Linked DNA regions of Homo sapiens: all the other regions are linked to region 1. The links come from fine-mapping of genetic effects on gene expression. A gene starts in region 1. Each other region holds a variant in brackets. All regions are shown on one strand. Distances are from middle to middle.

Region 1 (4,138 bases):
CACCAGCTTACAGCCTAACTACCAATATATCCTAAAGTGCCCAAACTGTGATTTTGAAAATCAAAGTATAGTTCAACTAATTCTCCCATAAAATAGGATAATACACCCATTTCCCTAGCTTGATATGAGAATTAAAAGAGAAACCATATGAATAGTACTTAGCCCCGTTCCTGCCACCGGGCACTCAATAAGGCACTTTAGTATAACATAGACGTTCAAACCCTGGCTCCACCAATTAACCATTGTGGTATATTAGGCAAATTATTGATTTCTTTTGGGCTCCCTTTTCTACTCTGTAAAGTGGGGATAATACCTGCCTTATAAATGTAGTTCTACAGAGAAAATGAGATAATGTAAAAAAAAAAACAAAAAAAAAAAGGACTGAGAACATCGCCTGGGTCATACAAAGTGCTCTGTAAATGTTAACTGCTATTAACAGTTAAGTAGCCCTGGTGGGCTTGAGAGGTGTGGTTTAAGAAAAGCCGATCTCCAAAGAGGGCGGGGCCAGAGAAACGGCCAATTTCAAATTTACACCCAGATTAGGACTACTGCAGGAAATAATTATGCCAGATTGCTCTCCTGGAGGATTTCAACGTTTTCCCGTTGTCTAATGGCTCTTAGCATGTGAGGAGTCGTGAGCCCCTCTGAAAAATTGATGAAAGGGGTGTGCTGTCTCAGAAAAGTGCACAGCCTTTGTACACAATTCCAAGGGGTCGACAGAGAGGTCTGAGAACCATCCACCAACTCTTCCCCCAAGAATTTACAGCTCCCAGAAAATGCACTCCTGGTCTAAGCCATGAAGACGGGCCTCGACCCCTGGGCCCTGTCCCCGATTTAGAGGACTGACTGCTGCCAAGCCTCGGAGCTGTAACCAAAACAAAAGCAGCTCGCGTCCGGCGCCCCAAAGAGGTAGGTATCTTCAGGCCACAGAAGCACCCACACAGTCCTGTGCTCTACTGGGCAGCGACCAAACTCGATCCTAGGACCCGTGTGCAAGAACAAGGAGTACAGAACTGCGGGCTCTGGATCATCCCTTAGATTTTATCACGGCCACTGGCCACCTCCGAGGAAGGGTTCAAAGCCAGACTAGGCAGCGGTCTCTGAGGGAAGGTTTTCCTGATGGTTCCAGGAACCAAGAAGAGAGGGAGATGTGTGAAGCGAAAGAGGGAGATCCCAAACATTTCGCTTAGGCACCCATGACTCAAAGTAAATGGTCAAGAAAGGTCATCGCAGCCCGAAATCCACCGCCTCCTCAGCATCGGGAGCGCGGGAGCCAGGGCGCCGGGCCGCGCGAAGGCTTCTGGGGGCTGTAGTCCCCCGCTCGGCCCTCACCGCGACGCCGGAGAGCTGGGAACGGCAGGTGAACTACAACTCCCAGAGGGTAGCCCGCCTCCGCGACGACCACAGATCCGCATCAAAAGAACTGGTCCAGAACTGCACATCTAAACCTAGGTTTTCTGCTCTCCACTATTTAATTCAGCTCCGTGAAGTAAACCTTAGGACTCGGGGTAGGGATCGCCTTACCTTCTCCGGGAGGCAAAGCCGCGTCCACGCGCGCCACCGCCATATTTGCTGCTTGCTAATAATACCAGGCAACCGTCCTCCCGCGGCTCTGTGGAGCTTGTAATCTGAAGGAGGGAGCCGGAAACTATAACTCCCAGGATGCACGGCTCCCAGACGGCCCAATTGGCTGCTTACGCCTAATGATGTGAAGCTGGAGTTAGAATCTGAGGGTAGTGAGCTCAGGGACCCTGGCCCACTCGCTTATTTGACAGATGAGTCAACTGCGTTATTAGATGATCATTTCACTTCCTTGTCCAGGCGTTTGCGAAATTTGACACTTTTACCATCGGGATGATTGTAAGGAAGCTACTTAATGCAGACTGCATTTTACAACTCATTGCTGGAAGTCTCTGTGGGGGCTGCTCCATTCTTTTGATAATTGTGAATAAGTTGAAAGTTTTCAACTCCGCTATAGGAATGACCGATCTTGTTGAGATCATAAAAGTGGATACATTTTATTTGAAATTTTAGTTAAGTAAAAGTAAAGTATGCCGAAATAGAAACTTTTATACAGTATTTTTAAGTGATTGTTTGATTGTTCTTGAATATTTGACAAATCTTTTGACTTACGGGTATAAGTATGAACCAAGAACTTTTCCAGGGAGTATTCAAAATAACTTTAAAATATAATCTCCAGGCCGGGCGCAGTGGTTCACGTCTGTAATCCCAGCACTTTGGGAGGTCAACGCAGGCTGATCACCTGAGGTCGGGAATTCGAGACCCGCCTGGCCAACATGGAGAAACCCCGTCTGTAGTAAAAATACAAAAAAATTAGCCTGGCGTGGCGGCGCATGCCTGTAATCCCAGGTACTCGGGAGGCTGAGGCAGGAGAATCGCTTGAACCCGGGAGGCAGAGGTTGCAGTGAGCCGATATCATGCCACTGCACTCCAGCCTGGGCAACAAGAGCGAAACTATGTCTCAAAAATATATATATTTTATATAGATATTGCATATATTATAATTATATATAAATTATATATTATATATGTTATATATTTAGATATTATATATTATATGTTATATATTTAGATATTATATATTATATATGTTATATATTTAGATATTATATATTATATATGTTATATATTTAGATATATTATATATGTCATATATTTATATATTATATATTATATATGTTATATATTTAGATATTATATATTATATATGTCATATATTTAGATATTATATATTATATATGTTATATATTTAGATATTATATATTATATATGTTATATATTTAGATATATATGTTATATGTTATATATTTATATATTATATATGTTATACATTTATATATTATATATGTTATATATTTATATATTATATATTATATATGTTATATATTTATATATTATATATTATATATGTTATATATTTATATATTATATATTATATATGTTATATATTTATATATTATATATTATATATGTTATATATTTATATATTATATATGTTATATGTTATATATTATATATGTTATATATTTATATATTATATGTGTTATATATGTTATATATTATATATTATATATGTTATATATATTATATATTATATATTATATATGTTATATATTATATATTATATATGTTATAGATTTATATATTATATATTATATATGTTATATATTTATATATTATATATTATATATGTTATATATTTATATATAAATATAGATTATGTATATAAATATATTTTTATATAGTCTCCAAATTCAAGAAATACATTGCCTAGTTGGAAGAAAGCAGGCTCACACTTTTTTCTTTTTTTTTTTTTAGAGACAATTTTTTTTTGCCCAGGCTGGCCTTGAACTCCTGAGCTCAAGTGATCCTTCTGCCTCAGCCCGGCAAAGTGCTGGGATTACAAGCGTGAGCAACGGCGCCGAGCCTTCTTTTGATGCAACTATTATATGCTAAACGGTGTGATTGTGACTGAGCTCACTAATATTTCAGGGAATTGAGAAAGAAATAGAATCTGAAATCTTCAGTGAAGACTTGATGGAGGAAGTAAATGTACCCATCTTTTGATGGGTAGACTGAACAGTTAGTTCTAAAGTAAAAGGTGAAAAGACAGCACAGGCTGCAGGTGGTAACGAAGTTGTGCTCACAGGAAGTGAGAAACTAAACAGAGTATACAAAAAACTTCTGCTTTCTACTACCAGCTCTCCCACTTCCTCTTGCAACCTTTATTCTGAACTCCCCTCTTTCTGAAACAGCAATCTGCAAAGTCTGATCATTTTTGCTTGGGAAAATCTAGTAATTCATGCTTCTAGATTTCCAGGCACTGGATTCTCTGAGCATTCCCCCTTTCCTGGGTTCTCCTATCTCTCTACACTTGTTTTAACTCCTTTCGATTCTTGTTTCCTGCTGCTTTGGTCTAAAGACAAATTTCCTAGTTCTGAAGGGGCAATTAAGACTAGGATTTTTTTCCTTTTAACCAAGAAACTCCTTACCTAGAGAACACAATCTTACTATATGTGTAAGAACAAAGTAAGGCCGGGCGCGGTGGCTCACGCCTGTAATCCCAGCACTTTGGGAGGCCGAGGCGGGAGGATCACCTGAGGTCAGGGGTTTGAAA
Region 2 (4,138 bases), 38 kb before region 1:
TAAGTATTAGCTAACAATATAGTATATGCAACTTTCTAAAATACCTAAAAACATACCAAATTCTTGATAATATGACCCCTAATTTCTAAAGTATAACAAAAATTCCAAAATTTTACTGTAAAAACTGCAAACAAGAAAGCAGTATGTACAGTTTTTAGTTTCCCTTTGACCCCCCGCCCAAGGTAATTACTGACAGCAACTTGATGCATATCCTTCCAGACTTTTTTCTAGGTCGTATTTTCAAATATACAGGGAAGCTGAGCACACTGGTGTGTGCCTGTAGTCCCAGCTGCTTGGGAGGTTGCAGCAGAAGGATCACTTGAGGAGTTCAAGGCTGTAATGCGCTAGTGCTGTTTTTTTTTTTTACTAAACAGTATTATTTTGGAGATCTTTCCATGTTGGTGAATACCATTACCTTATTTTTTTTAACTATTCCATGGTATTCCACAGTATTATTATTCTATAATTTAACCATTCCTCTATTGTTGGTAACTACAAAACTTTACAAATCAATAATTATTTTTTCATTTTATAGGTCAAATCCTATTATAACAAATTTGGCCAGGTGATGTGGCTCACTTTGGGAGGCTGAGGAGGGAAGACTGCTTGAGCCCAGAAGTTTGAGACCGGCCTGGGCAATATGGCAAGACCCCATTTCTATAAAAAAGAAGAAATGAAAATTTTATTAAAATATTTTCAAGAAATTATCATCAAGAAGTATTTGATGTGATACAATGCTAGTAAAACCAACTGCCTAAACTGTCCCTAAAGTGTGCTATTATAGGATTCAAATACTCTCCTATACAGTTATGAATACTTTTTAGGACATGCATATTGTAGTCATATACCATCTTAATCACAATTCATTCAAATATTCCCAAAAGACAGATCGATAGCTACATGAAATTTCAAATTGGGGTTGTTGTATCTATTGGAAAGCTCTAACAGCCTTCAGTTAAGCCACTTTCCTCCTGCTTTATACTATTTTGTTTTTCTTGTCAAAATTGTCAGAATATTTTTCTTCAGATTAAATAAAATGCAAGAAAATTCACTGTCCTAGTTCACAGTTAGTGGCGAAGAACACAAGCCATACCCTTAACCTTGAACAAGAGTGCTTAATACACCTGAGTACTCTATGATTATCTCAATGAATATAGAATCTGTATTTGATCATATATGAGGTAAATCAGCAGGAGGGAGTTTACCTGGTTCCAAAGGAATCTGAAAGCTTCTTCTTGTACAAATTTTTTAATACGTTCTTCATCTCTTTCTTTTCGTAATCTACAATAATTCAAAACACATTATTGACATAAGGAAGGGTGCTTTGACTCAGACTTCCTGTTACAACTCATAAACACATGCATTGTAAAGAGATTAATAATCTAATAGTTGTCTTTCCCACTTTTAGAATATCTAAATTAAAACCTTATTTTATTTTTATTTTTTTAACCTCAGAATCAAAATGGAACAGTTTTATAAGTGACATCATAAACCTTAATTTTGAACTGTGACTCAAAGTAGAAGCCAAAGGAGATATGACTGAAATACAGGTATTAGTTCTACAAAGTATTTCCAGTAATAAGAAATAAAATAAAATGTTAAATGGCTCTTTGTCTGGCTTCAATTTCTCAGCCAAACAAACCAAAGGAACAGAAAGTGCAAAAAAGGAGTGGCTATCCAAAGCCTCCAAAACAATTAAGGGTCACATTTAAGTACTCGTGATCCAGCTTGAAACACCCTCTGCTAAAGACTAATCCCATCAAACTTCACTATTCTGTTTCCCCAGGTCTCCGACCTACTCCTTGCTAACAAGAGACCTCCCATCCATTATTCCTCATTCATTCATCAAAGTCTGAGGTCTGGGCTCACTGCTGTTCTCTCCATACTTAGGCCTATCACAAACCTAAGGCTCCTCCTTTAGTGATCCATTATCACCCAAACTGTCAAGACCATTTTGTTCCACACCTCTGACCCAATTCTCCACTTTCTCTAGCCCCCCAAGCCTTTCTCCTGTGCCATCTAGAACTCCTGAATTATAATTAGCAAACTCCCTTATATACTCCATCTCTCTCTGAACTTTTCCTTGTCCAAAGCAGACCCACTTCTGAGAGCACTATAGCCCTCTGAAGTGGAAGCTATTTTTCCCTGTCACACATCAGGGTTCAAAAATTGCTTCTCACTATTGTTTTCAAATGATTCTTCATCTCCCTCCTTTAACTCCTGCCATCCTGCTAAATTTCCCAAAATTCGTTGTCAAGTACTGACCTCCCACCATCTGCTCCCATTCAATGAAGTCTCAGCACCAGGCTTTCTCTTTGCCCCATACCTGTCATCGTTTTTGGAGACCTCAACATTCACATGGATGCTCTAACAATAATCCACCCCATGTCAGTCACCCATTCTCATAGTCTCACCCTAGACCAAATCATTTTGACTACACTACTTTCAGAAAT[G/A]GTTCTAAGCACCCAACACCAACCACTACTTCCTATCCTCCCAGTTCACTTGCTGTTGTACCCCACTGCAACAATCTAGACCTTCAGTCCAATGATCCTTCCCCCCTGCCTTCACTTCCCTTTTACCTCATTTAAAATTCCAGCCAGCCTGGGCACAGTGGCTCACACCTGTAATCCCAGCACTTTGGGAGGCCCAGGCAGGAGGATCACCTGAGGTCAGGAGTTTGAGACCAGCCTGGCCTACATGGTGAAACCCTGTCTTTACTAAAAATGCAAAAAAAAAATTAGCTGGGCATGTGGCAGGTGCCTGTAATCCCAGCTACTCGGGAGGCTGAGGCAGGAGGATCACCTGAACCTGGGAGGCAGAGGTTGCAATGAGCTGAGATCGCACCATTGCACTCCAGCCTGGGTGACAAGAGCAAGACTCCATCTCAAAAAAAAATTTTTTTAGATAAAAAATAAAAATAAAATTCCAGTCAGCAAGGTAATTCACACCTGTAATCCCAGAACTTTAGGAGGCTGAGGCAGGAGGACTGCTTGAGGCCAGGAGTTCAAGACCAGATGGGCAACATAGACTTCATCTCTTTAAAAAAATTTTTTTTAATTAGCTGGGCATGGTGGTGCATGCCTATAGTCCCAGCTACTTGGGAGCCTCAAGTGGGAGAATCACTTGAACCCAGGAGTTCAAGATTACAGTGAGCTATGATCACGCCACTACACTCCAGCCTCAGCAAGAGGGCAAGACCCCATCTCAAAAAACATATAAAATCTAAGATCTATCATTATTACTCCCTCTCAAATATCTTCAGCTCTCTTGCCCTTCCCCTGCTCTCTCTACAATATCACCTAGGAAAAAAAATCATTCCTGGCTGAACCAAATTAACCATGCCTGAATCAGACCAGAGCAGCTAAGAATTGCTGATGAAAATCATACAACCTGACCTATTGTTTTGCACTTTTAAGCATTTTCTCACATTGTCCAGCAACCCTCCTCCATTTTCCTCATAAGGTCATGTTTAAGATAACTACCTCACACCTCATACTTCTCTCCTTACACCTCCTTCACCCTCTCCTCATTTTCAGGTGTTGACCACATCTTATACATTATTGAAAAAGAAGCAGCATCAGACAGGACTTTTTCCCATCTCCCACCATCAAACCTACCACCTTACCTGCTCCTGCTCCCATTTCAGGCCACTTCCTCTACTTCGACACTACATTTCTTCCTCTCTTACCTTCTCAAGAACTGCAATCCTGCTCTTCCTCTTTTTTTTTTTTTTTTTTTTTTTTGCTGCACCATCAGTTTTTCCCTCCTTATTTATTCATTCCATCAACACATGAACAAACTCTATATCTCTCATCTACAAAAGAGAATGTTCCTTTAATCTAGATTCTCCTCCAGACACCACTTAACTCTCTTTTCTCTTGTTTTCCTCAAAACAACTCTTTCCAAGAATTGGCTACACTCATCCTTCAAACTCTTTACCTCTCATTCACTATTCAACCCATTCCAAAATGGCCTTCATCCCTCTACACCACTGAAGCTGCTCTTGGGAAGGTCACTGTGCAGTAAAGAGTTAACTCAGCAGGATGGGGATGTTCAAACACTGTACATTGCAAAGATAAGACTGGCCCTTGACTGACTCCTGGGAGATAATCTCCAAGCCCTTGGAATATCCTGACTG
Region 3 (4,138 bases), 110 kb before region 1:
TGTAGACACAAAGCAAGACACAAAAAGACAACAAACCACAGAAAAATCTTTTGACCTCAGTTGAATAAGTACATCCAGAGCATTTACAATGACATGTCTCAACCTTTCTTTCAGTATTAGACCCCACTACAGGGTCTTTTTAGACATCTTTTTCCTAATCATCCCCTGATGAAAGTTTAATATCACAGATATACTGTATATCTATTATGTACTATGGCCCTTTGGGGGCCACAAACTATTGTAATAGCTAAGATTTTTCCCTGAAGAACCTATTTTTGCCCTCTTGGAGATAATATCACCCTCTCTAAGAACGCATGATTTACAGTATTAGACCCTCTACAGATTCACAGTACTAGGCTGTCTAGCAAACTTGACTGAAACAATCAGAGGAATGGGGATGCACATAAACTACTCAATGCTAAAACATATCCAAAAGTCTTCTACCAATATTAAAAGTGCCTGCATGTTGCTAAATATCTGAACAAACAGTGAAAAAATCATTTTTAATGTCTCCAAATATCTGGAGGTTGGCATTTTATAGATATAACATCTAGGTAATTAACAGTATTTTGATAAGTTTAATTCAGATATTTGGTATCATGTATAGAGAATGTAGCATTGTGATTATTGTTTAATATAACCATGACAGAATTCACCATTTGTCGTGGTTATATTTCCCATTCTATCAAAAAGACACATGCACCTGTATGTTCACTGCAGCACTTACTTACAATAGCAAAGACATGGAATCAACCTAGATGCCCATCAACAGTGGACTAGATAAAGGAAATGTGGTACGTATACACTGTGGAAATCTACACAGCCATAAAAAAGAATAGAATCATGTCCTTTGCAGCAACATGGATGCAGCTGGAGGCCATTATCCCAAGTGAATTAACACAGGAACAGAAAACCAAATACCACATGTTCTCATTTTTAAGTGGGAGCTAAACATTGGATACTCAAGGACATAAAGATGGCAACAAAGACACTGAGGACTGCTAGATGGGGGAGAGAGGGAGGAAAGCAAGGGCTGAAAAATAACTATGATCAGTACCTGGGTGATGGGATCAGTTGTACCCCAAACCTCAACATCACGCAATACACCCAGGTAACAAACCTATACATGCACCCCCTGAATCTAAAATAAAAGTTGAAGTTACAAAAATAAATAAATAAAATAAAGCTAATTACAGCTACCTAAAAAATGCTGTAGGGCTAAATGAGATCTTGCTGGTAAGCTCCCAAAACAAGTGTTTAATAAGTGTTAATTCCCAATCCACTAACTCCATCAGCGGCAGTAAATATTTTCATTCCCTACGGTTGAAAGGAAGGTATTTTACTTCACAGACAATCCCAAATTAAAGGAACAGAAAGTGCTTTAATCAGAAACCACATATGCTAGTTTTAAGGAGCCTCTTCACCAAAACTGAGAGGGGGCATGATGCTCTCCAAGCCTGTTAAAGATTACATAACCCTGAAACTGTCAGTAAGCAGAGAGCTGAATTCCCCTCTTAGATGTATTCATATGTCCTCTTGCTATGGAAAATAGCAGAAATTCAACAAATTGGTTTAAAAAAATACTACTAAACCACACACACACACACACACACAA[A/CA]AAATCTTAGTTCTCATGAAATCACAGTAAAATGCCTATAAATAAAATTCATAGTAATTTTGTAGCAACTTCAAAAAAATGTCTAATTTAAGAGAAAAATCTTAGAAAAATCCCACTGCCCTTTTTGACATCAGCCAGAAGCTAGGTAACACCTGGATGCTACTTGTTTAGAAATATCAGCCCTTCTCACCCTCGAGAGTTCAGCATCAGGCCAAGAAAGCCAAAAGGTGAAGTTCAGCCAGGGCCCTCGAGATCTTCCTGTTAACCTGGGAGAAAAAAATCAAGAGGCCTCCAGATCAGTGTCAGCTATGAGCCAAAAGAAAATGGTGTTTTCAGGAGCAATTCATTATTGGTCTCAGAACAATTAGAAAATCTTTCCCCTCAGTAATGCTTTCCATGGCTCTGTAGCTTCTGAAAGGGTTTGTTTTGCTCTCTGAGAGCTTTCTTGTCTTGTCTGTTACAGGACAAGAAAGAGAAGGGTTTGCCTCCTCTTCCTCAGTGAGGAAAAGTCTGTATCTGAACAGCTGGATTATGCTGACCTCGGTCATCACCTCCACACTGGAGAGGATGCTGCCAAATGTTTCCGTCATCTGCACTGTGCACTGATGTCATGTGCTAACTCCTCTCAGACTGACTCTGCCACCGCAGTGCTCCACGCCTGTACCCTGCCCAACTGTGTCTTTGGCCTCAGCAGGATGATGTTAGAAAGACGGTGGAGAGGGGTGGTGGACCATACACCGTATTCTGAGGCCAAATAAATAAACAGGCAGGGTTATCTGCCTGTTTAGATGATCTGTGTGGCTGATGCCCTGCTCCATCAGGGATTATGCGGGGTGGTGAATGAGACTAGGATAAACTTTTCTCTCCTTTTATTGTCTAAACAACCTACTGTCTAACAGAAGCAAAAAAATATTCCACCCAGCCAGATATTTCTTTAGATGTCAGATTTAAATAGAGGAAATATATATTACCAAATGCTTAAAATTTACGTAACTGTCATCCTCTTTGGGACAGCACCTTCAGCCACTGCAGCGAATTCACTAATCCCAATGAAGAGAATCTCTAATCCATTCTATTTAGAAATGTGCTTTTATTCAAACAAAACCCCTTAACATATACAGATTATCATGAATCTGGGGGTCCAGCCAAATCATCAAATTTCAGGTTTTCCTCATTCATAAAATGGCCATTCATACATTTTAATTTTACAGCTGTAAGAATGAATGAGGGCATGCTATAAAGTATTTCAATTTACTCTGATATATTTTCCCATATAGTTTCATGCCTACGGTTGGTGGGAAAGTACTCCTCTAAACCCACACATCAAATCTCCTGGGAGACTTCTGCCTCGGGATATCATAGTTCTAGGTCACTGACAGAAGATAGTGTTACATTAGATTTATGATACTTCATCACCCATTCTATCGATCTCCTCCATTAGTATCTCAGTCCTTCCTGGGCCTTTAAAGCAAACAGACATGATTCTTGCTATTACTAAACTACAAAAACATCCCAGATTTTCTTTCTCCAAAAAACTATCCCCCAATATTTTGCCCCAAAGCAAGTATGGCTACTCAAACATAGGAGAGTGACTCCAAAGTTAAGAATCTGACTATGGGAATAGGAAAGAAAAAGAAAAAAAAAATCTTACCATTTAAGATATTTTAATAAAATATCAGATAATAAAAATATACCTTTGTGTTTGAAGAGTCAAGTCACACAAATACGTAAGAGCAAATCAATTGTTTCCAGCTGTAATCAGCGATAATAACCCAAGTACGTGACAGCATGAGAAAGACGATCAGTTTCCTTTTGAGGTTACATGATAAGCAGCAGCTAAGCAGCCTTTTTCTCTAAGAACTCGCCGTCTGACCTCGTGGCAAGAGGAGGCCAGCCCCTCTCACTGGCGCCCTTTATAGCGTTCGCTTTCAGTTCTCCACTCTAGTGAGGACGGGGGCGGGGGAAGCTAAGAGCCTGTTTTCTAAAATGCAGAATACGGTCATCCTCTCTTTCGAACCGGGTTGCGTGGGCACTGAGGAGGGCCAGAGGAGGCAGGGAGGGGGCAGCGAGGCCTAGATTTGTGGATTTTTTTTCTGCACACTGGAAATTCCCAGACCAAAAAGGTACCGACCCGAGTCCCGGACATTCCCCTCGAGGGCCGGCTCCAAGACCTGGACTGGAGCCGCAGGGAGGAATCAGAGGCAACATCTACAAACAAAACTTTTTCCTTAAAGACGTCCTTTTAAAATGTCCTAGTGAATCTCCTGATGGGCATTAGAGTTGCCTTCTCATTAGATTCACCTCATCTTATTTCGCTTTTTCTGTGTGGCCCCTAAACGTGAGGGTGCAGTGGGCGGGTGGAGGGAGTTACCTTTTACCATATAGCTTTTACAATACGGCAATCAAAAAGTAGTATCGCAATCATGTGCCTTCACTGACTAATTAAAGGACAAGAAATCTGTGACATAAATAAAGCAATGGTCCTGTAACATGAAGATCACTTTATTTTCAAGGAGTAAGGGG

The links.
Region 2: its variant is fine-mapped to the expression of CEP97 in whole blood (INTERVAL, PIP 0.96).
Region 3: its variant is fine-mapped to the expression of CEP97 in whole blood (GTEx, PIP above 0.99).

The regions. Positions count from the first base shown.
Region 1 is chr3:101,722,106-101,726,243 of GRCh38, reverse strand. CEP97 (centrosomal protein 97) reads right to left here and starts at 1,630. Exons shown (of 11, transcript NM_024548.4): 1 at 1,525-1,630. The coding sequence starts at 1,567. RefSeq lists enhancers at 152-763, 935-1,004, 1,285-1,654, 3,791-3,850.
Region 2 is chr3:101,759,628-101,763,765 of GRCh38, reverse strand. It overlaps CEP97 (centrosomal protein 97), which reads right to left. Exons shown (of 11, transcript NM_024548.4): 10 at 1,206-1,281. Among named protein-coding and RNA genes, the nearest start is that of NXPE3, 18 kb to the left of the region's middle. The variant G/A (reference allele first, on the strand shown) is at 2,454.
Region 3 is chr3:101,827,356-101,831,493 of GRCh38, reverse strand. NXPE3 (neurexophilin and PC-esterase domain family member 3) reads right to left here. Exons shown (of 8, transcript NM_145037.4): 8 at 3,263-4,138. It also overlaps a transcript of NFKBIZ not described here. Among named protein-coding and RNA genes, the nearest start is that of NFKBIZ, 20 kb to the left of the region's middle. RefSeq lists enhancers at 1,948-2,007, 3,450-3,629, 3,780-3,829. The variant A/CA (reference allele first, on the strand shown) is at 1,616.